2 linked regions of the Homo sapiens genome follow. The protein of the gene in region 1 interacts with the protein of each later gene in a pairwise test. Each region holds a gene or a part of one and is shown on either strand. Other genes may lie near its edges. The genes, in order: TDP1 and DCLRE1B.

Evidence for each region.
Region 2: the proteins of TDP1 (region 1) and DCLRE1B interact in binary tests that used the Homo sapiens proteins (3 or more experiments, as listed by UniProt).

What each region holds. Positions count from the first base shown.
Region 1 is NC_000014.9:89,955,972-89,968,829, reverse strand, and holds part of TDP1 (tyrosyl-DNA phosphodiesterase 1), read right to left. Parts: exon of another isoform or gene 12,253-12,858; 5' UTR 12,030-12,252; exon of another isoform or gene 10,433-12,029; intron 9,052-10,432; exon of another isoform or gene 8,824-9,051; intron 5,723-8,823; 5' UTR 5,716-5,722; coding exon 5,157-5,715; intron 2,684-5,156; coding exon 2,640-2,683; intron 1,464-2,639; coding exon 1,408-1,463; intron 1-1,407. UniProt on the Homo sapiens protein: DNA repair enzyme that can remove a variety of covalent adducts from DNA through hydrolysis of a 3'-phosphodiester bond, giving rise to DNA with a free 3' phosphate.
Region 2 is NC_000001.11:113,907,545-113,919,663, forward strand, and holds the end of DCLRE1B (5' exonuclease Apollo), read left to right. Parts: intron 1-464; coding exon 465-647; intron 648-3,586; coding exon 3,587-4,647; 3' UTR 4,648-6,542; downstream 6,543-12,119.

The sequences.
Region 1 (12,858 bases):
CTCATAACAGATACAAAGGAACTGCAGTCTGCACTTTGCCAACACTCTAATGGGGTGACAGTTTGATTTCAAGGTCTTTAAGAAAAGGGAGGAAGAACAGAAAATGCCAATGTGACACCCAAGGATACTACTGCGAGGAGGAGCCAAGGCAGAAACTGCTTGTTGCCTCCAGACAGCCATTCTCTCCTCCTTCCCTAACAAAAGGCTAATTCAGGAAAAGGTGTGCTAAGCTAAAAGACATTTCTAGCCTCTTTTACAGCTGGTTAGCATGCAGCTGAGCTCTGCTCAATGAAATAGATGCAGGTGTTGTGTGGGACTTCCAGGAAGGCTGCTTAGATGGGCATAGCTAGAATGTGGGCCTTTTTGTCCTTTTCCTCCTTTCCCCTTCCTGCTACCTGGAATAGATGAGTAAGCTGGAGCTCTAGCTGCCATACTGGGCCACGAGGTGACTCTGAAAACTGAAGTCACATACAAGGATGGTGGAACAGAAAGGGTAGGTGGATAAGTCTCTGAGAACCCTGGTGCCCCCATCTAGACCATAAATGTTTACCATCTGAATGTGTCACGCTGGAAACAATTTGTCTTATTTAAGCCATTGTTATTTTGAATATTCTTTTACATGCAGCTAAAACTAATTCTGTGTGTTACAGGTCAAAAAAAAAAAAAAAAGCCCCAAGTGCCAAAGCTGCTTGAAAAATTTTAACAGCATTTTATCTACTGTTAATGTCAAAGGTTTCCACAATCTGATGCCCTAAATGTACCAAGAATTTTGAGGACCCTGACAATCATTATTTCTTGTGTGTTTTCCTCCATCCTACTTGCTGTTATGGGAATCTGCCCCGTAAATGTGTTAGAAATAGGGAAGGGTGGCACCTGTGTGATGCCCTATTTGGTCTGTATTGCCTAACATGAGGCTGATGAAGTGCAGGCAGAAGGCCTAAAAATCCATCACCTCCAGAGCCTAGATAAGGGAAGGCCACAGATAAGCCTCCTTTCCTCATCTCAGAAACACAAAGGGATCCTCAAAACAGAACAGAATTGATGTGCTACGGAAAGCATGGCACGTTGGCGGCATGTTGGCACATTCACAGATCTAGAAGGTATGTGGAGATGGTATTTTCCTTCATATTAAGACTGGACATGAAATTCTGTTATTTGAGTTAAAGCCTGTCCTTATCTACTTCCTGAAAGAGCACAGAGGAAAATGCTAAAATCCGTAAAAAGAATGTGTAGGATTAAATAGATCAAAGAATGCTGTTTTCCGGATATAACTTAATGTCTGTGTGATTTCAACAGTTTCAAAAGAAAAACTCAAAAGATGAGTGGCTTTCACCTGAGAAATACAAATCTTAGGTGTCAAAGCCCCTTTACAGTTTATAGTGTTGTCTGTCACCCTGAGGAACTCACCTGAACTCTGGTGGATACTGTTTTACGAGCCAGTCCACGTCAAAGCAGTAGTTAAACTAGATGGGAGAAAAGAAGAGTAACTAAGCCATAGGTAATTCTGCCAAACAGTTCATAAGGAGAATTGTTTAGTTATTACATTTAAGGAAACTCTAAAATAGTGATACACTACATGTATTATTTATAAACCTGGAGGGTTATGCTGCAATACTAACAAACCTATAATTTATCTTAAATGCATGGTTAAAAGAACCTAAATGGAGCCAAGTACATGAGATAACAGGTTCCCAGGAAATTATCTCTGCATGTTTTGGCAGCATCTGTACTTGTCCGCAGGGTGTTATTACATTATGTCTAATGGCCCTGAGATTAATTTAAATAAAAGGATTTATAAATTTATCCCTTTTCCCCTAGGTGATTATAAAAAGACAGATACTGGAGACAAAGATCCCAGGACTTTCAGAAAAGAACATTTCCTTTCAGGCTAACTTATTAGCTAGCTTTGTACACAGCCACCTGGGACCAGACATTCACTAGGCTTCTAACAATTACATCTTAAATGCAAGTTCTGTACTGGTCTTACCCGTGGAGGCTCCTCCCCATACCTGGGTAATCCTGGACTTAGTAACTCAGTCGAGCTAACAGGGCATTTGCAAATGCTCCCCACCTTCCAAATGGAAACCAGGACTTTCAATGCCAAACCAAACATAAAGGAAGCCTGCCTTTCTTCAGGGACAGGGCCCTTTGGACCACTTACTTGTGGGTCTGGACCATTACATGATTTATCAAGACAAAGGGACTAGCTCAGTCAGGAAGGAGCCACTGAACATGAAAATTCACATTTTTCTAAATTAAATCAAACTTGACTTGGCCTTCACCACTCTATCCATACCTCACCACTCTATGCACCAGAGTTAACTCAGTCCCATGAGTTAATCAGTATCCCCAAAAGAAGTGTCCCATTCTAGTCTTTCAAGCTGGAATGTCCAAAGTGACTTCTTGGCCAGCGGAGGCTGACTTGAGTCAAATGCTCTCCTGATAGTGACATCCCCATTCTATGTTGATGGCCATGGATCTCATTACTGTGGCACTTGAGCCAGCCTCCAGGTATGTGCCATCTCAGTCTTTGAACAGGACTGAGATCCCCAAACTATGCCTCTCATATTTTCTTATGGAGTTGTTTAATTACCTGTCTACTTTCACCCAAAGAAAAAACAGCTTAAAGGTATACTCACCTGAGCTGAAGAAACAAGCGTCCCAAATAAAGGAGATAAAATATCTGAGAAGACAAAACATATATCAAATTCACACTCACAAAAATCCTCTAGTCATAATAATCACTACTAACTCATTCAACAGTCACTGACAATCAAGATCTGACTCAGAACACAGTAAGCTAAACAGTTACTACAAAGTCAGACTTTAATGTTTCATAAAATTCAAAAAAAATTTCCCTATGGTATTTAATATTTATCATACATTCTTTTATAAAACAATGCAAAACCAAAATCTACAACTTCAGTACTGAATGATTGATCAAGTTTAGAAACTCAATATGGACAATAATGATACATATTCTTTTCAGATCTCTGAACTTCTACCTCCTCCAAGTACCCATTCAAGTCCCTCTCCAGGAAATCTCCCAACTCAAGACTAGAAAAACTTTCTAGAAAGATTTTATAAATGTGGACAGTTTAGAAAGACTTTCCAGAAAGACTGGAAAGCACCTGTGGCCTGTGAATGAAAGGACAGAGGCACTCACAATTATCAACTCACATTCCTGGTGTTCCTGGTCATCTCTAGGGAAGTCTCACTTTGTACCCATTCAAGCTTTATGTTAGGTAAGTTGAAAGCTCACTTCTCAAACCATACCACGAGAGCAAGTACACCATCATCGTGACCTTCCATTACAACAGCCACATCTGTGGAGACCTGTTAGATGCCAGGCAGCACTCTTGGCACTTCCCATCCATTACTTACTCCTCATATCCATTTTCTAGGTGGGGTCTGTTATTTCTATTTTATATCGGAGGAGCCTTCTTAGGAGGCTGCCCACAGACACACAGCTAGAAAGGGGTACAGTCGGGGTTTGAACCTAGGCTGTCTGGCTCCAGCACCTTCGCTCATACCCACTAAACTGCCTCTGAGAATTAAGACTGGCTCATTCATTTGGCAAATATTTCCTGAGTGCTTCCTATCTTCTGGACATTGAGCTAGATGCTGGGGTAGAACGATTTTCAGAGAACAACAACAAAAAAATTGTTAAGGAAGGTTCTACCTTATTGGGAGAGTTGCAGAGATAAACTGCAAATATTCTTCCATTTGCCCCCACCAGCATGTATTTCTTCCCTTCTAAATTTTACCCATCTTTCAAAGGCCTTTTGAAGTCCCCCTTCCTCCATGAGATCTTCTAAGCCATCTACAATTATGGCACATGGTAGAGTGCTATAGCAAACAGCATGGATTCTGATGCCAGAATGTCATTACCAGCTCTACGACCTTGGGCACTTTTCTAAAGTGCAGATGCATCATTTATCCAAGGAATACGATTGTAACATCTACTCATAAGACTGTCCTGAGGATTAAAGGAGAAAATATATGTAAGAGCTCCTATCATGTTACCACAATACCTTGGTGCTAATTGCCGGTTATTTTATTATATAGAGCAAAACTTGGCAAAATTCTCTAAATATTTGTCAGTCTGTCTCAAACAAACAAAAAACTTGACAAAGTACCAAGATAAGAGATTCTCAAAAAGAAAACAACCTGTAGAACACTCTACAGTATGAAATACTCCAACATGTATACATCACACACAATATACAATTATATACTGGATATATAAAAAAAGAACAACACTGCTGACAGTGAACATTACTATTCTTAAATATGGGACAGGAAAAAAATCTGAAATAAGGGTAATAATGTTTATTGTATCTGCCATGTGAATATATTACACTGGTTACTTCATATATTTGCTCCCATTTTTCTGCATTTCCAGTTTAAAGATGAGCAAACTAAAATTCAGAGAATGTTAGGTCCTGTGTTAACAATCCATACAGCAAATGAGTGGTGAGGCCAGAAAGCAGATTCTAGAGCTCCTGCTCTTCCTCCTGCAGGTGCTCCCTGAGGAATAAGGAGAGCAAACTAAGGCCATCTTTTGATCCATAACTGAAACATCTATTTGCACTCAGGCACTATTTTGTTTTTTCTTCTTCTTCTTCACCAGGAACTAAAACCAGGCTTTTAAGCAGTGGTTCTCAAACTTGACTGGGCAGTAGAATCCCCTCAAGGGCTCGTGAAAACACAGACTGCAGGATCTCACCCTCAGAGTCCAATTTAATGAATCGGGAATGGGGCCCGAGAATTTGCATTTTAACAAGTTGCAGGTGATGCTGAGGCTGCTGGTCCAGGGCCCATGGAGAACTACTACTGTTGTCAAGTATTTGCTACCTTGTTGATAAACTGTTACTCATCAAGCTTCATCTTAAAAAGTTAAATAATGCTAAACATCGTGCTAAGTGATATAAGGGGTTGAGCTACAGGGTTTTGAGAACACACGCTCTGCCTGAGTTAAGTAAACAGTCTGCTGTTATACTAATGCACTTGCCTGTCAAGAATTTTTTTCCTGAAAGTAGTTAAGAACACAAAGAAGAGTTCTCAGAAACTATTCTAGGCTGCCCTCCTTGTTTCACGGAGGAGAGACTCTCAAGGGCAATTCAACAGCTCCTTGACACCCAGCATCCTCTTACCCTTGATGTGGAGGGCTCCAGAGTTATACTTTGGCTTAACTCCAGAGACTCTAGTGAGGTAAAACTGGAAGGGGTTCCCTTTATCCAGCATGTCCCAAATGTCCTGGCCCTCCCCTGATGTCTCATACTCGTCTTCCTCCTCTTTGAGCCTGTGGCAGGCGGGAGCGCCATGATTTTCAGTTCTTTGGGCAGTGCCGTCATTGGGAGCAGAGATGTCTTTCTCCTTTTTGATCACCACTTTCTCAGCCTGCTTCTGCGGCATTTCTGGTTGCAGCTCATCATCACTGCTGGACAGACACCAGCCGAGGTCCTCCTGGGAACCGCTTTTCTGCCTTTTGGGAGGTAAAACTGAATCTGTATTGCTGAATTTCACAGGTGATATTTTCCTCTTGTGTGCAGCTTTCTGGGCCTCGGAACAGGTGTACCTGGGCTCATTTGCTGCTCCTTGCCTGGCACAGAGAAGAGAAGAGGTAGATGGCTTGTCTGGTTTTGGCTTTTCTTCCTCACTTTCATCACTACTAGATATGGTCCACCTCCCATAATCGCCTTCCTGAGACATTATACTCCTGGAAATGAAAAGTGGAAACATCAGCATTTCCCATTCATCAGGGCATTGGCAAAATAACTTTATTGCTCTCAACTTCCCTGTCAGATGAGCTGACACCTTCCAGAGGCTGAACCACCTAACATCAGCTGCTTTTTGGGTGTTTATAAGCACATTACCAGAATCCACTATCAGATTCTGCCAAATCACAAGCAAAAGTCCTGGTCACCTTTCTTTTTTCTTCCTTTTTTTTTTTGAAACAGGGTCTCGCTCTGTCACCCAGCTGGAGTGGTGCAGTGGTTCAATCTCAGCTGACTGCAACATCTGCCTCCTGGGCTCAAGCAATCCTCCTGCCTCATCCTCTCGAATAGCTGGAACTACAGGTGCACGCCATCACGTCTGGCTAATTTTTTTTTTCTTTTTTTTTGGTAGAGACAGGGTTTCATTATTGTTGCCCAGGCTGGCCTTGAACTCCTGGACTCAAGAGATCCACCCACCTTGGCCTTCCAAAGTGCTGGGATTACAAGTATAAGCCACCATGCCTGGCCTTGGCTTTCAATCTAAACTTTGTTCTTAGATGTCCTAGGAAAGGGGGTTGAAGAATGCATCAAGACAAATGCCAAAATAAAACAAACATTCATTCTTGACCCCGAAACTTCCAATAAGCGTTTGGGATTAAGGTCCATTTAATCTATGTTCAAATGCTTAAGGTCAAATTGGAATTTACAAACCTAGCCTTCACCCAAGTACAGGCACCCACAGGACTTCAGTGATTATGTATGTCTTACTTCCCAAAAGACAACCCATTTACCATAAAGCTTAACAAAGTCTTCAAGAGGAAAGCCAAATGACCACTTAGGTATGTACATTATTTACACTACTTCCATGAGGACCCAACTAATTATAATTAGTTGGATATAATTATATCAAGATATAATTATCCTATTGGCTACATCATAAATCTACTAACACCTACACAGAAATAACTTGTACTGAAGCAACACACTTTTATTTTTTAAGCCCCACAGTCAAATTCTACTTTCTTGTTCTGAGAACAGGAAAGTACACGAAACAGTCACTTTTGCTGTTACCTACCAAATCTTGTCAATTCAGTGGTAAAGGACTATCTAAGTAGACTTTCCAGACAGCTAAAGAACAGTTCCTCAATGTGATACTTTTAACATTTTAGCACAAGACCCAGGGGAAAATTACAAAACTCAGTAGTCTGTGCTCAGATCAACAGTATCTTCGAGTTTCTGCTGTTTTAATGAGGCTGGAAAAGATGCATTGAGTGGAGTAAACCAAGATGGTGACACTCCCTTCACAAAACCTACATTCCCCAAAAAAGAGAATTCAACATTATTCTACATCAAAAGATTTGCAAATCAATACATATGCATATGTCTCTAGATGAGAACTAAAAATAAAAATCTTGGCTAAGGGGACCCCAGAGAAACCTTAAAAACTGAGTTCCGGGCCATGATGAGATGGGAGCTCAGACATGCCTGTTATATCCCCTCCCTTCTGCGGTTTAAACACAACTGACCAGAGATCGTAAGACTGGCAGAATAGATTCTGTGACAATATGACACTAAATCATAAACAAGACCTAAGGCCATGCCAAGCAAGGGTTAAATCACACACTGCTACCTTTAAACTATGTTCTACCTTCCACAAGGTTCTTTTTTCTTCAGCAGCTAAATAAGCACTGGCCTAGAGATAAGGAATATCTAAACAATTGCAGCTCACCTACTGCCAGATGCTTGACTAACTGACCCCTCTGGTTCCACAGGCCATGACTGCAGCTGTCATTGGACAATGGAGTAACTTTCTCCTGAAAAGAAACCACAGACTGGTTCTGACCAGTCCTCAGAGGCTGAGCACTGAGTGCCTTCATGTCTCTCCTTCACCTTTTGACAGAGGGCCTAATTGTAATTCATTCAAATGTTAAGTCTCCATCCCAAAGTGAACACGAGATGCACAAAACACACGTTTGCTCATTACACATGCACACGTGTCCCCCCTTGGTGAATATTCATAGCTCCTCCCACACCTGTTGAATACTATACTTGGCCAACCCATTCAGTATAAATCTCTGTTCTACCCTCTCCTCCCTGGGATGCCATTAAAGGTCTCTGCCTGAGGCTGTGCTTCCCAGCCTGTCAGGCCACACTGCAGGCTGTAGCCCTTTATAAGAACTAAGCTCTCCTTTCTAAATGTATAGATCTCATGATTTTTTCAGTGAACACAGCAGGGCGGGGCAGGGGAGGGTTGGAAATACTTTAAAGGTATCTATCCCTTTTCACAATTTCTCTCTTCACCTTTTTCAATTAACTACCAGTCAAGTTAAGCAAGCCTTCTGTAAATTACACATTTCAAGGAACTTTTATGCAAGAATGCATCAAGACAATAATCTGGCCCATTCTTCATGGCTCTGGGTCATTATTACCCTACCCAGCATGAACACACTATCTCACAGCCAAAGCCTTATTGACTGTAGAGAGGGCTGGGGCCACTTGCTCCTGTAATAGTGACCCTAGACTGTCTGGCTCTTTTGAGCCCTCATATCTGCTTTCTAAAAGTTTCTATTTATTTCTACACTCTGTCCAGCCCACTTCAAGGGGTTGTTAAAACTCATAGCATAGGTATATTTTCCCTAAATTGTTTCTAATCTGCTAAGGGTTAAGAAACTAGATAACTGGGTTTGTAGAACTGTATTGTCATGGTTAAAGGGGTCTGAGTGCCCAGTTTCCTCCATGAAAGAGATTCAGATTGATTTACTACTCAACACCTACTTAAGCAGCTCAGAGGTGGTTTTTTAAATGTTTTTAATCCTTCCGGTTTGAAAAAAAAACCCACAAAACCTTAGGTTCCTCTAGTGTTCTAGAGTCTAGAAGTTGCTGGATAGGGGTATTTAAGCTGTTACAATACACTTTGAAGAAACTATTTCAGTGGCTACAGTTTCGTGACTTTAAAGTTATCTAGGAACAAAAGAACCACCTTAGGAAAAACCACTCTCTGAATGTCAGCTCTAGGTTCCTTTGAATTCTACAACAGTTCTAAACCAAGGCGGTGAGTAATAGAATCTTCCATTACAGTCCTCAGGCTGTTCTCTATAGATACCTTGCCCATTCTAAAGTAAGTAGCAGGTCTTAGTTTTTGGTGAGAAAGGATTCAGCTTCCACTCTCAGAAGCAGTTGCAGAATCTTAAGAGGCTACCATAACAAATATGGTTGCCTGCATTATATAAATAAAATGGAATTTCCAAACACTGAGAATTCTGTGCTAAGTACATTATTATGTACTAAGAGTTGCTAAGGTAAAATCCTTAGCAACTCTGTGAATTATTTAGAGAATTTCAAAGGTTTTTAAGTTTTATCATTATCTCCATTTTCTAAAACCATATGGAAGTGGAATTCCCTCCAACAAAGTAGGACAAGAGGATAAAAAATAAAACAAAGCTTTAAAAAAGACATTTTCTAGAGAACAAAGCCTTTTTTTGGGGTTCTGCTCTATAAAGTTTTGGACCTGCTGAAACTCAAAAATATGCCTGAGTTGCTTATTACAACCTAATACAATTTATTGGGTTACAATTTAGTGCAACAGACTAATAAAATTGTGTCTTGTTGTTAAATGTAGCAGCTTACCAACCTCTTTATGACATCAAGGCTCCCGCCCAGTTGGAAAAGAACTGCTAGTAAACACCAATATCAAACTTTTACTTTGGATAACTGGTCACCAGTAACAGAATTTACTTCCCTCATAGAGGCTCTGGTGCCCAGCATTTCAGAGTGCTTTGTAATCAAGTCATACAGTTTTAAGAAATGTAGAACCTGAGAGCTTTCCTTCAATTGTTTATCATCTGTCTTCCCTGCCTGGGCAGTGCTTGGTACAGCATAAATCTGAAGTCACACTTTTTGTAAGTGGTACTGAAAGAATCAGAATACAATATAGCTGTGTTGATTCTGAATCCTGGCACTCAATCAGAACGGCACAGTGTTTCCTGAAGTGGAAGTGATTGGGACCTGACATTATGAAAGTACTTCCCTTTCCATTCCAATCCAAACTCCCTGTTTAAATCAAGAAGAAAGTTGTAGTGTTGTAGAAATGCTTTTAATCTTGATTTTGAACAAATAGCAGGGTTTGGGCTCTTCTGCAGGCACCAACAATTTTGTTTACCATCAACAGAAGGTATCTTATGGCTACGTTATATTTGAAATAGCAAAATAAAGTTTATTTTATGTAAAAGAATGATTGGATTCAAACAAAAATATTAAGTATATGATAGTCTATGTGATAGCGGCAGGAGGCAGACAAATCCCTAGGCAGATAGGGGCAGGGCCCCAGTGAAACCCCACCTGCAAACCAAAGACAGTTTAAAGCCTGAAAGCCAAGCTACAAGTGTTGGGTAAATCCACGGACCGGATTGATAACCCCTCTTCCCACTTGGCACACTTTCCTCTGATCAATCCCCACCCTTCACCTACTTTACATATATCTACCCTTCCCTAATTGGTTTTTTACATTGTCATGCCCACCTTTGAGTGGTGCCTTTGTTTTAGCCTTTTTTGCATACTCACAAACCATGGAGCACACACTCCCTCATTCTGAGCCCATAAAAGCCCCAGACTCAGTCACACCAGCGAACTGCCCACCTTGGGGTCAGGGCAGGGGCCATCCACTTGGGGTCCCGTCTCTGCTGAGAACTGTCTCATCACTGAGTAAAACTCACCTCCGCCCTTTTCCCCTTCGGTTGTCAGCCTAACCTCATTATTCTTGGACGCAGGACAAGAAATTCGGACCAGCTAAACAGCGAGTGCAAATAGAGCTATAACCCTGTAGCACTCCGTTCCGCTAGTGAAGCAATGGGAGAGGGAGCTGCTGGCTGCCACACACCCCCATTCATTGGGCTGCAGATGGTGGGACTAAAAGAGCTGTTAATACATCTCTATTTGCCTGGTGTCTCCAAGTGTTTGGGCACTACTGCATCCCCCTCGTCTGGACACCAGAATCTGCTACCAGAGTCACTTGCCATACACCCAGGCCATCCACAAGCCCTACATGGAGCCTGTGACTGGGCCAGCACTTGGAACAGCCAGCCGGGCCTCCAGGCTTGCTCACTCACTCACAAACCGACTCCTCGCGGGCTGAGCATGCAGTCATAGTGGCCACGGGATCTGGGCGGGGATGAAAGACAAATGCATTCTGCCAGGCTGAGTGGGCAGGGCACCTCCTGCAGCCAGCCCAGGGCTGGAGGTCTCCAGCTGGCAAAGCGGCCCTGAAATAAATCCTGTGTCATGTGTTAAGAGAATAAAGCAAACTGGGGAGAAGGCAGGTGAGTGTGAGTGAAATTTGGCAAACACTGCACTAACATGAAAAATCTAAGAAATCTTCCCACCAAATGCTAGCTCAGGACACTGTTAGCACTTTTATTAAGGACTTTAAAACATGTTGTGGATATAAAAGGGTACTCCATTTAGAGCTACTAGTGTTTCCTCACTCCCCACTATATGAGACCCAGCTGGGGCATTTCTCTTTCACCTCCAGCTGCTCCTTCTCATTGAGCTTAAAGACCATCAGCTGGGCCTGGAGGCCATGCTCCTCAATTGAGTTCCTGTGTGGCCAGTAATAGGCAAACATGGTCCCTTGTCTCAAACCCGGCCATGACTAGGGAGTAAATGTGCACTTGGGCAGGTTAGTTAACTGCTGAGCCTCAGTTTTTTAGTCTGTGAAATGGATATCATGCTTACCCCCTGGAGTTCATTCATTCAATAACTTACTGGGCAGCTATTATGTACCAAAAACTGGGAATGAGGCGTTAACAATATAGTTTCTACCCTAGCAGAGCTAATTTCAGGGCAGAAGAGACAGACCCACACATAAAAATTTTAATAGCCAAGATGAGTTAGACATTCATTACATTTTATAAGTATGAGACAGAAAAATAGGGGTGACCTTTGGAATATACTTAAAAAGTAACATATAAATGAGACCCAGAGGGCCAAAAGGAACCTGCTGTCTAAATGATGGGGTGAAGAGCATTCCCAAGTAGAGGGAACCCAGCCGGCAGAGGTGGGAAAGAGGTCATAAGAAAGGACTTAGGCAAGGCAGGCAGTGGTCCGAAGCGGGTGAGGGGAGAAGACTTGTTAAAGAAATTGGATTTTATGCAATGATCAATGGGACCCCACTGAGGGCTTTAAGAAGGGGAGTCCGATTTACATTTATTTTTTTGAGACAGAGTCTCGCTCTGCCGCTCAGGCTGGAGCGCAATGGCGCAATCTCGGCTCACTCCAACCTCTCTGCCTCCCAGGTTCAAGCAATTCTCCTACCTTAGCCTCCCGAGGAGCTAGGATTACAGGCATCCACCATCACGCTCGGCTAATTTTTCTATTTTTGTAGAGACGGGGTTTCACCATGTTGCCCGGGCTGATCTCAAACTCCTAACCTCAAGTGATTCAGCCGCCTCGGCCTCCCAAAGTGCTAGGATGACAGGCGTGAGTCACCGCGCCCGGCCTTCGATTTGCCTTTTTAATACAGCTGTGTGCTCCAACTCTGCGGAGAATGGGTTGAAGACAAAGGAAGTGAGAGGGCTCTTGCTGAAGGCGTTGGGGACGGAGCAGATTCAGAACGTGAGGAAGTGACGGCAGCAGCTGCTAACCTTACTGCGTGCTCATTTGGGGCCGGCCAGGCACGATTCGAAGCGCCTCACCAAGTGTAAACTCGCTTCACCCTCAGGACAACTCTATACTACGTACCGTGACCGTCCTCCTATACTGGGAAACCGAGCACAGAAAGCTTAAGCGCCTGGCACGTGGTGGGCGCTTTCCTACTCACTTTCTGGGACCACGCACCTGTAAGCTTAGGTCTGGGAATAAAAACCCGAGCAGGGGCCCCTAGCGCCGCGCCCCGGCAGGACACAGGTCTCCGCAGCGCCCGTGCGCGCCCCCTGAGGCGCTGTGATCGGAGGAAACCGAGGCCCCGGGGCCGAGGCGACCCTGCCCCATCTTCCCGGCCGCGCCGCTTCCTCGCGGTCCGCCTCCAGCCCTGCCGGACCCCAGCAGCCCGCGCACCGCGACTCGGCCAGGAGCAGGATCCCGGGCCCGACCGCAGCCCGCGAGAGACCGCACCGAGTCCGCGCCCACTGCCGCCCAACACGTA
Region 2 (12,119 bases), on another chromosome or scaffold:
CTGCAACCTCCGCCTTCTGGGTTCAAGTGATTCTCTTGCCTCAGCCTCCCAAGTAGCTGGGATGACAGGCGCCTGCCACCACGCCCAGCTAATTTTCGTATTTACTATTAGTAGAGACGGGGTTTCACCATGTTGGCCAGGCTGGTCTCGAACTCCTGACCTCAGGTGATCCACCTGGCTCGGCCCCCCAAAGTGCTGGGATTACAGGTGTGAGCCACTGCGCCTGGCCGATTTCCCACTCTTTAAGGGTCCGAACCTTGTGAAGAGTAATTGAAAAATAGGAGTAGGATGGAGACATTACAACAAAGAAACCATGCAGCTATACTGCCTAGTTCAGTGCCAGGCTACATAATAGTTTTTTCACAGACTAGTAAGCAAACGCCTGTCTATTGTTGGAGGTAGGAGAGGCTTGTCTTCTATTCTTTTGTCTCTGACCTTCTGCCCCCATGTACATATTCCTCCAGGTGATTTTCGATACACACCATCCATGCTAAAGGAGCCAGCCCTGACACTGGGGAAACAGATCCATACTTTATACCTAGACAACACCAATTGCAATCCAGCCCTGGTTCTTCCTTCCCGACAAGAAGCTGCCCACCAGATTGTCCAGCTCATTCGAAAACACCCACAACATAACATAAAGATTGGTGAGTTGTTTCCTTTCAGTTTCCTGTCACCTGTAGATAGTGAACTAGATTCTTTAAGGATTCTCACATCTTTCAGATCTTTGTGCAGTTCTCACTTTCTCCTACACTGACCACCTTATTTAAAATTGCAACCTGGCTAGGTGTGGTGGTTCATGCCTATAATCCCAGCACTTTGGGAGGCCAAGATGGGAGGGTCATTTGAGCCCAGGCGTTTGAGACCAGCTTGGGCAACATGGCAAGACCCTGTCTCTACAAAAAATTTAAAAATCAGTTGGGCACGATGGTGCGTGCCTGTGGTCCCAGCTACACAGGGGACTGAGACAGGAGGATTGCCTGGGTCCAGTAGGAGGTCAAGGTTGCAGTGAGCCATGTAAGTGCCATTGCACTCCAGCCTGGATGACAGAGCAAGACCCTGTCTCAATAAATGAATGAATGAATGAAATAAGTAAAACTGCAACCTGCCCACCATCCCCATTCCCAACTCCTGATCATCCATACCAATTCATTTTTTTCATTTTTTTATAGCACTCATATACTATATATATTTTTAAATATGCTATTGCTTACTTGTTGTCTATCATGCACTTCCTCTGGCCCATGCACATACGCGTGCACACACACACACACACAAGCATAAACTCCTTAAGAGCATCACTGGAAATGGGAAGAGACTTTGTGTGTTTGTGGAACAGAGAAGCAGCAGTCAGTATGACAGGCACACAGTGGGCAAGGAGGCTGAAAAGGCAAGAGGGGCTGAAGTGCTGTTAAGCCATTTTGGACTTGATCCTAAACCCAACCAAGAGCTATTGAAGGATTTTAAGTAGAAGAGGGACAATATGCACTCATCACCTTGCAATATATTCTATAATTTATGTATTTATTGGACTTTTTATTGTCTGATTCCCCCTGCTAGAATGTGAATTCCACTATGGCAGTCTCTGTTTTATTATGGGTGTATCACAAATGCCTACACTAATGCCTGACACAGAAGCATTCAATATGAATGAATGAAATTTATCAGAACATAGATATTTAAGTGAGCGTTGTGCTTTAAATTAAGTATACTGAAAAAACAGGTTTGTGCTTGTTGTACTGATTATAAATAGTATAAAACATTGTTGAGGACTCTTTCTTGGAGTTGCCATTTGGAATAGTTTATGAAAATACATTTTTGTTTTATAAAATAAATAAATGTAATAGATTTGGTTCTAAATTACTTTTTTGGTTGTTTCCAAATTTGTGAGTCTACAAAAGGACAAAGACTTGCCACCATTATAAATATTTGAAAAGGACATGTCTCAACTCTGAAAGGAGTTTCAAAATGAGACTAAACAAAGGCATTGAAAAAATTATATAACTTCCAGGGTGACTACCAAATCGATTGAGAAATATCCTCTACTCTCAGGATTGCTTAGCTACTTATAAAGACCTAACCATTCTTAATATTTTAATGCAGAATTTTCTCAAAAAAGCAAAGCTGGCTAGGAGGATGCTATAGTAAGCCTTAATTAATTTTGCAAATATGTAATAAGCCTCTACCCACTAAGTACCAAGTATCCAATAGGCAGTGGGGATATAAAGATGAATAAAATATAGTCTCTGACTTGGAGGGCTCACAGTCTGGTAGGGAAGGACCTGTGGGGAGGTGGAAGTGGGAATATATATAGAGAGAAGAAAAATCCGCTCCATTTGTGCCCAAGGAGTGAGATTTTGAACCATAATCAGGAATAAAGTGGATATAAATAATATATACTTCTTTTTATGGCGTTCACAATCTGGTTGTGGATTTGAAACTTCTTCAGAAAAAGTCTGAGAACAGCTATTAAACAACATCTCCCATATCTGTTACCATAACCATTTCCCAAATTAATGTCTCCATTTCTTTCTCTGTAAGTACTATTTGGGCCCTTCAATTGAAACTTCCACTCCAGCTTCTTCTCATCCTGGCAGTCAAATAATATTATTACCATATTTTTCTTTTTAAAGCCCTGCTCTGAGCATATTATTCTTATGATTAGAATTAGCCATTTTCCTGCTTCACACTCAGTGGCTCCCCTTCACTTACACAATGAAGTCCAAGCTTCTTAGCGGTACATATAAGACGCTCTATTATATGGCCCTTGCTTGCCTCTCTGGTATCATTTCTTATCAATTCCTTTTTTACTTTAGTAACAGCAAACTGACCCCTCTTAAAATGTTTTCCACTATACCCTTTCTACCCTTTCCTTGCCAGGTTAACCTTGCCCATCCTTTAAGATTTAGCCTAACGTTCCCTAACTCCATCACCTGTTAGATACAATACTGTATACTTTTTTTGTTTTTTTTTAAGAGACAGGGTCTCACTCTGTTGCCCAGGCTGGAGGGTAGTGGCATGATCACAGCTCACTGCAGCCTGGACCTCCCGGACTCAAGTGATCCTCCCGCGTCAGCTTCCTGTGTACCAGGAACTATAGGCGTGCACCAACATGCTTATTTGTTTATTTTTGTAGAGACAGGGTCTTGCCAGGTTGCCCAGGTTGGTCTTGAACTCCTGGGCTCAAGCAATCCTCCTGCCTCAGCCTCCTAAAATTGTAGGCTTACAGGTGTGAGCCACAGTGCCCGGCCTGTACACATATCTTTAACGTTGCTCTTAATTGTGGTTTTTCTGGGTCTCCTTGTAGATAGTACTTCTTGAGGACTGACAGTTTTCTTTATTAGTTTTCATGGTGCCTGAAACTTGCTAGATGCTCTCTTTTGTTGAACTAAATGAATGAGTGGATTCTGTGTCATTCCCTTTCATATGTCTTAGCTCAAATGCCACCTCTTCCTTGATATTCTCCCTGGATTTCTCCATGAATTGTATCTATTTTTGTTAAACATTTTGTTGATTTATTAGGATTTTCCAATAGCTTAATTTTCTTCCTTCTCTTACTTTCCCCAATACATTGAACATTATTTAGGACTCTACAGCCTGGGAAAGGAATCACTGCTGGAGCAGCTGGCCCTGGAGTTTCAGACCTGGGTGGTATTGAGTCCTCGGCGCCTGGAGTTGGTACAGCTACTGGGCCTGGCAGATGTGTTCACAGTGGAGGAGAAGGCTGGCCGCATCCATGCAGTAGACCATATGGAGATCTGCCATTCCAACATGCTGCGTTGGAACCAGACCCACCCTACGATTGCTATCCTTCCCACAAGCCGAAAAATCCACAGCTCCCACCCTGATATCCACGTCATCCCTTACTCTGACCATTCCTCTTACTCCGAGCTTCGTGCCTTTGTCGCAGCACTGAAGCCTTGCCAGGTGGTGCCCATTGTAAGTCGGCGGCCCTGTGGAGGCTTTCAGGACAGTCTGAGCCCCAGGATCTCCGTGCCCCTGATTCCGGACTCTGTACAGCAATACATGAGTTCTTCCTCTAGAAAACCAAGCCTTCTCTGGCTGTTAGAAAGGAGGCTAAAGAGGCCGAGAACCCAAGGTGTTGTGTTTGAATCCCCTGAGGAAAGTGCTGATCAATCTCAAGCTGACAGAGACTCAAAGAAGGCCAAGAAAGAGAAACTTTCTCCCTGGCCTGCGGACCTTGAAAAGCAGCCTTCCCACCATCCTTTGCGGATCAAGAAGCAGTTGTTCCCAGATCTCTATAGCAAAGAATGGAACAAGGCAGTGCCTTTCTGTGAGTCTCAAAAGAGGGTGACTATGTTGACGGCCCCACTGGGATTTTCAGTGCACTTAAGGTCTACAGATGAGGAGTTTATTTCTCAAAAAACCAGGGAGGAAATTGGTTTAGGGTCCCCCTTGGTACCCATGGGAGATGATGATGGAGGTCCAGAAGCCACAGGGAATCAGAGTGCCTGGATGGGCCATGGTTCTCCCCTGTCCCACAGCAGCAAGGGCACCCCTCTTCTAGCTACTGAATTCAGGGGTCTAGCACTCAAATATCTTCTGACTCCAGTGAACTTTTTCCAGGCAGGGTATTCTTCCAGGAGATTTGACCAGCAAGTGGAAAAATACCATAAACCCTGCTGAAGACAGGAGAGTACAGAATGACAACATTGAGCCCACACTGCAGTTTTGAAGATAGTAACTGATGGCTGGTGGGAAAGAGTTTGTTTTTGGGGCCTACTTTTCTATCTTTACAAGACTCTTATGGGCCCACCGTGGAGCAGCACTTCCCAAAACTTGTTCACTGGGGTCCTCGTGCCTATGGAATCCTTCTTTTTATAACTAAGTTTAAGAAATACTTTTTTTATAAAATCTTTGGAGTATGCGTGAGCAAATTAAAAGTTCTTTGAAGTCCTACAGTAACTTAATCTGTTTAACCTTGTTTAACCCAGTATTTCTCAAACTTTTGTGAACATGCAATCATCTTATGTGGGTACAGAAAGAGGTAAAGAGTCTGAATCAAAAAGGACCAGGTTATTGCTGTTGCTGTTTTGTGGTGTCATGAGCCATTCTCCATGTCCCCTTCTCCCTCTTCTCAGATCAAAATCCCTAGGGAGTTCTATTTTTAAAATTATGAACTATGGCGCTGCATGCTTCAATCCTGAACGTCACTGACTTGCTGTGACCATCCAAATAATTTTCCTGTCTCTGCCTCTGGGAGGGAACAGGAAGCGATGAAGAGGTCTTGGAACAGTAGTGAAAATTCTACCTCTATGTCCTTCATGAGGATGTGCAGTATCCCAGTATCACTGGGATCCATGTGGAACAGAGCCAGCTGGGGGGTTGGGCAGCTCTCTCCAAGGCAGTACCTAGAGCCCAGCTGAACAACAAGGCTTTGGGTGTGAAGGGACTCCCCAGCCTGGAGACCCTATTTGGCTGAAACAGTTACAAAATATCAAATGTGTTGTCAGATATTCCTCCAATTGTTCACATAGCTGGGATATTTGTTGCTCCCCTCACCCCTTGGATTATGTAGGGAGCCAGTGCACACAGCCTGTTTGTTTTAGTATCCAAGGAAGAGACCAAGGAGCCAGCTGGCGGGAAGGGGTGGGGGTGTGCAGTCTGCCCTGTCCTTCTGCTCATAACCTGACAAAATGCCAAACTAGTAAGCAGGATAGCTGATACCACGGCTATGAGGGAGTAGGCTCTGAGAGGGCACAGACTTGTGGAGCTGGGCGTCTGGATCAAAACTGCTTTGGGATGGAACCTCGAGCCCTAGCAGTGAAGAAGATTCCATTTCTTGTCCAGGGGATTTAAAAGAGTTTTCTGCTTTGAGAGAGAAATAGAGAGTTTAGAAAGCAATTGCTCTTGGGAAAGCTATACACAGCTCTGTTTTGTCAATGACCTTTGTTGTAAGTCTCCCAACGTCCTATTAGGAGCCACAGCAGGTGAGGCATTTGGTGCAGCAGGAAACATGGGGACTGCCTAGGCTCGAATCTGTGGCACCCTGAGCAATTACTTAAATTGTGGAGCCTAGTTCCTCATCTGTAAGATGGACTTGAGATTCCTACCTCTCATGATTACTATGGAGATTGAATAATTGGTAAAATTCTCCTAGCTCAGTGACTGCCACAGGATGGGTCTTTCAGATTTTGGTTCTCTTTAGCTTCTGGTTCTTGAAAGAAATTAATCTGTATATAACATAAGAAACTTTGAAAGTCAAAAAAACAAAAAATTTTAATTCCTCGTAGATTAATTGATTTGCTATCTTTTAGTTTTTTTTTCTATGCATGTAGATGTATTAAATATGTAAATGTTTTTCAAAGTTGAGGTAATATTGTATAGAATTTTATAGCCTACATTTTAATTTCTTGATATCTTAAGCATTTCACTTATTAGATATTGTTCAAAAATGCCATTTTTAATATTTGTATAATACCCTATCATGTGAGTATACCTTAACTAAGCCATTCCCATATTCAACATTTTGTGTACTGTTTTTCTAATTACATATATTACAATGAACAACCTTATGCATATATTTTGCATTTTTATTTCCTTAAAGTAAATTACTGGAGTTAGATTATAGTTTTAAGTTCTTGATACCAATTGTGCTGAATTGCCCTCCAGAAAGGTTTCCTGACCATCTTTTCTGCAGACAGGATAGCATTAAAATACCTTGAAGACTCATTAGTTTAAATGAGATCACAAGAACGGTACATGTTAACACATGGAAAATCATCTCATGTGTTAACTTAATAAATAGCTACTAAACTGTGTGGGCAAATTTAGCTGGACTTCCTCTAGCATCCTCTAGCTGTCTGACTTCTAGGCGGCCGAAGGTGGCTGGGAGAGATAAGGTAGTTCTCAGTACAGGGGTTCCCATATTGGCGTTATCTTCTAGCAACAAGGGAGCCCGTCTACTCTTGGCACATGCTGTGTCACACCTGTTCCTTCAAGTGGGTTCTATATGCATTCAGATAGGGGAGGGGAAGCAAAAGACTTTGAGGAATTTAGTTGTTGGTAGCATGTTTGCATTTGTTTGTTTGGCTTTTTTTTGGAGACAGGTTTTAGCTCTGTCACTCAGGCTGGAGTGCAGTGGCACAGCCATAACTCACTGCAGCCTCGACCTCCCAGGCTCAAGAGATTCTCCCACCTGAGCCTCTTGAGTACCTGGGACTATAGGCATGCACCACCATGCCCAACTAATTTTTTTTTTTTTTTTTTTTTGTAGAGATGAAGTTTCACTATGTTGCCCAGGCTGGTCTTGGTGTTGAACTCCTGGCCTCAAGTGATCCCCCCTACCTTGGCCTCCCAAAGTGCTGGGATTACAGGCATGAGCCCGTGTGCCCAGCCATGTTTGTGTTTTCATAATGGGAAAATTCCATACTATTCTAAAAGAAAAAATGTCTGCCTTCTTATACTAGAGATTAGCAGTTGTTTGATTTTCCAATAGTCCCTCATATAAAAATGCTGCATTGCATATACTTTACATAGCCAATTTAAATTATTTTTAGAATCTAAAGATGATCCTATAGATGTATGAAGATATTGCAATTAGGCTTGAAGGTGCTGGGAAAAAGGAGGTTCCCTAGAGATCCATTAGTTATTTAATGGATGATCTGTGGGAGAACTTGTACTTTTCCACAAGGTGACTGACAATGGCTTAAGTCCCCTTACAGAAAAAAAATCTGCCTGGCTGGTGTTGGGAGGCCATCTCTTACTCTTGACCCAGATTGCCCTTTGTGGTAGGAAACAGATGAGTGACTCCACTTGTTCTTCTCTTTTCTTTTTCTTTCTTCCTTTCTTTTTTTTTTTTTTTTTTTTTGAGGAGTCTCACTCTGTTGCCCAGGCTGGATGCAATGGCACTGTCTTGGCTCACCACAACCTCTGCCTCCTGGGTTCAATTCTCTTGCCTCAGCCTCCCAAGTAGCTGCGATTACAGGCGTGCACTGCCACACCTGGCTAATTTTTGTATTTTTAGTAGAGATGGGGTTTCACCATGTTGGCCAGGCTGGTCTCGAACTCCTGACCTCAGGTGATCCGCCCACCTAGGCCTCCCAAAGTGCAGGGATCACAGGTGTGAGCCACCGTGCCCAGCCCAGCCCATGTGCATATATTTTCGATGTTACCATCAGTGAGCACCTGTCAGTGTATTAGCTGCCTCCCACCCCTCATGCTCCTCAGCCACCACCAACCACCACAAGCTGTTTTGTCTTAGACTCATGGTGCTTTCCCTTTTCTCTTCCCCAGGGGATCCCACCTATACCTGAACAGAATGATGCTGCTCTCCCTTATAAACATCTGAGTCTAACAGCTGCCTGTGAGGGATTCTCAGAATGGTTAAGCTTGTCTTTATCTTGACCACAATGCCTACCCTTCATTTAGCTCTACCCTTCCATCTTGACTGTCTCATTCCTGGGTAACTTTGTCTTCTTTGAACATAGCCTTGACCTACTGGATCACAAAAAGCTCCCAGGATTCTGGGCTTGGTTCTTCTGGATAAATAGCTTATTGAATCATCTTTCAATCACACAAAATTTCTGGCTAGCCTTGGGTTCGCCTGTGTCTTACATTATTTACACTATTGTATTATGGCTATCTTACCAGTCCTGTCTCCTCTGGTTAATTTATAACAACTTTGGAGAGTGTGGGATGAAAAATTGGTCCCCTGTGCTACTCCATCCTCAATGTGCTCATTGAAATGTGTGTTTTTGAGGAGCGAAGGAAATTGGGTTAAGCTCACTCACCCTACTAATTAGGCTTTGTGGAGACAAAGCACCAGAGCAAGAGCAGATGCCTGCTGTTTAGGGAGTCAGGGATACAAAGTTTGGAGAAAACATGTCTTCAGGAGGAAAGGAAAGCTTTGATCAGCTGAATTTCTTCAAATTCCCACCCATCTTCCAGGCTCATACCATCTGCTTTCTAATTTCCCTCTCAATGGTGGGATAAAAATCCTTCAATCACCTCTTACTAAGAACATTTTCTCTGCTCATACACATTCAAGAACCCAAACTATTCAGAACATTTTAGGTCCACATGATACAAGGCCCAACCTATCCTTCCAGCCTTATCTCCCAGGATTCTCCCAGTGCACACAATAGTAGGCCATAGTGGAAAAGATGGATTTTCAAGTTAGATGTCTTGGGTTGGAATCGTGATCCTGTGACTTACTAGCTGTGTATATAATCTCTAGCAAGCTACTCAGCTTTCCAGCTTAAAGTTCCTTTTTGTAGAGTGGGAATAATAATGCCTACCTCATAGGGTTTGGAGGAGAATGAAATAGAATAAAGCAACTAAAGCACTTCATAAGAGTATCCAATACATTAAAAAAAAAAAAAAGAAAGAAAAGAAAAAGTTTTTGCCTTTGGCTGGGTGCAGTGGCTCATGCCTGTAATCCCAGCACTTTGGGAGGCCAAGGTGGGCAGATCACCTGAGGTCAGGAGTTCAAGACCAGCATGGCCAATATAGTGAAACCCCATCTCTACTAAAAATACAAAAGTTAGCCGGGAGTGGTGGCATGTGCCTGTCGTCCCAGCTACTTGGGAGGCTAAGGCAGGAGAATTGCTTGAACCAGGGAGGCAGGTTGCAGTGAGCCGAGATCACACCACTGCACTCCGGCATGGGCAACACAGCAAGACCCTATCGCAGAAAAAAAAAATGTTTGGCCTCAAACTCCCTGACATACCTTAAATCCTGTTTACAGAGGAGTGACTGACATGTCCAGTGCATGCCCTGGATAGTGCCATTGGCTAATCCTATCTTTCAGGCCCAGAAAAATCTGAGAGATTGGCTGATGAAGGTACTTCCTGGGGGAGAGGTTCCTGGAGTCAAGTCTAACCAAAAGGGCAGTTACCTGAAGCATCCAAGGATGCATTTGTACAGATGGAAAAAGAGTAGGGTGAAATCATGATAAGCTTCAGATGCTGTGCTGAGTAAATTTAACTGTAAAATCCTAAGGCAAAGCCAAAACACCTCAGAAGAATAAGTAGTTAATCAGAGGCTCAGAGAATCCAAAGAGGTGTGCAGAGCAGAGCAGTCTGGGCTGTGCATTTCAAAACATTGTGGGTAAACTAAGGGCCAGACACTATGCTTGGTCTGGTTCTAGATTCTTCTGCCACACCAGCTGTATAAACCAACAACCTTGGATCAGTCCTGGAATTCTCCTTTTCAACTCCTACAGAAGGAAGGCAGAGCCACTGGAGAAAAGAACCATACAACTGGTATCACTACAGATTTCAGCCTCTGGTATTTTCAAAGCTGCTTCTCATCTCTTTAAGTCCTTGATTCACCTCCTCTCCCATGTACATCAGTGGTTATGACAAAGCTTTATGACTCAAACTCTTACAACATATGAAGCCTTAGGAAGACACCTTTGAGCATCAAGGATACCAAGCTGCAACACCCTGGGGCAACTTCCCTGGACCATAAGAACAGGTCTGGTCACCCAGCCTCACCCTAAAGGTGGCAGAATGAATCCCCCATACCCTGTTTAAACCGCAGTCACTGTCAGGAGTTCAAGTCTTTAAGGCCGGATTCTCAGCCTTCCCTCCCCTCTTTCACTAGGCTCTCAAGTCTCCTGCTCTGTGATCAGCAAATTCCTCTATGTCCTCAGCATCTTTTCTGAAAGTATCCATCACCCTCCTTGCCTAAATTGAAGACTGGCTCTCCTCTGAGCACACTGCTTTCCAGCCAGCTTCTCACATAGAGGCTCTTTTTCTCTCCCCCCACCTCAAGGTAAGAAGGTGACATTGATGTTCTCCTTATTCTCCTTGCTGCCTCCTAACCATTATTGCCATTTCTTCCTGTGACCATCTCTCCTACCATGAAGTGCATACTATCTAGCTATACCATCCCCTCCTTCCCATCCTCACTTATCAAGACTTGAGTCATTGACTCACAGCCTTCTCCTCCTTCACAACCCTGTCATCATTCTGGATGATTTCAATACCCTGGCCATTCAGCTTCCTTGACCTCATCTTCAAAGACCTTATTCTCCCTCTACCTCACCACCCTGTCATTACCAGAAATTGTACTACATCTGAAGCCTCAATTTTAAACTTTTTCTCCTGGCTTATTTGCTCAAGTGCATCTGTGGGACTGACAACAAAATGAGACCTGAGTGATGAGCCAGCCAGGTGAAGACCTGGTGGGGAGGTCTAATTTAAAAATTGTTTTTGTAGAGACGAGGTCTCACTGTGTTGCCGAGAGTAGGGAATAGGTAGAGGGTTCAGGCAGAATCAGCCCCTGGGATAGGATGGGAATGAGCTTTGTGCCTAAGGAACATGAAGAAGTGAGTGTAGAGAAATGCAAATCAAAACCACAATGTGGTACCATCTCACACCTGTCAGAATGGCTATTATTAAGAAGTCAAAATGGTCAGGTGCAGTGGCTCACACCTGTGATCCCAGCACTTTGGGAGCCCAAGGCAGAAGGATCACGAGGTTAGGAGTTCGAGACCAGCCTGGCCAAAATAGTGAAACCCTGTCTCTACTAAAAATACAAAAAATAGCCAGGCATGGCGGCGGGCACCTGTAGTCCCAGCTACTCGGGAGGGTGAGGCAGGAGAATTGCTTGAATCCGGGAGGCAGAGGTTGCAGTGAGCTGAGATCGGGCCACACTGCACTCCAGCCTGGACAACAGAGCAAGACTCCGTCTCAAAAAAAAAAAAAAGTCAAAAAACAACAGACGCTGGTGAGGCTGCAGAGAAAAGGGAACGCTTATACACTGTTGGTGGGAATGTAAATTAGTTCATCCACTGTGGAAAAGAGAACTACTATTTGACCCAGCAATCCCATTCTGGGCATATATTCAAAGGAAAATAAATCATCCTACTAAAAACACACCTGCACTCATCTGTCCATCCCAGCACTATTCACAATAGCAAAGACATGGAAGCAACCTAGGTGCCCATCAACAGTGGATTGGTTAATGGTAACTTGTGATGTGTAAAATAAAAAAATAAAATAACCCAGTGGATTGGATAAAGAATATGTGGTACATATATGCCAGGGAATACTATGCAGCCACACAAAGAAAGAAATCATGTCCTTTGCAGCAACAATGATGCAGCTGGAGGCCATTATCCTAAGCAAATTAACACGGCAACAGAAAAT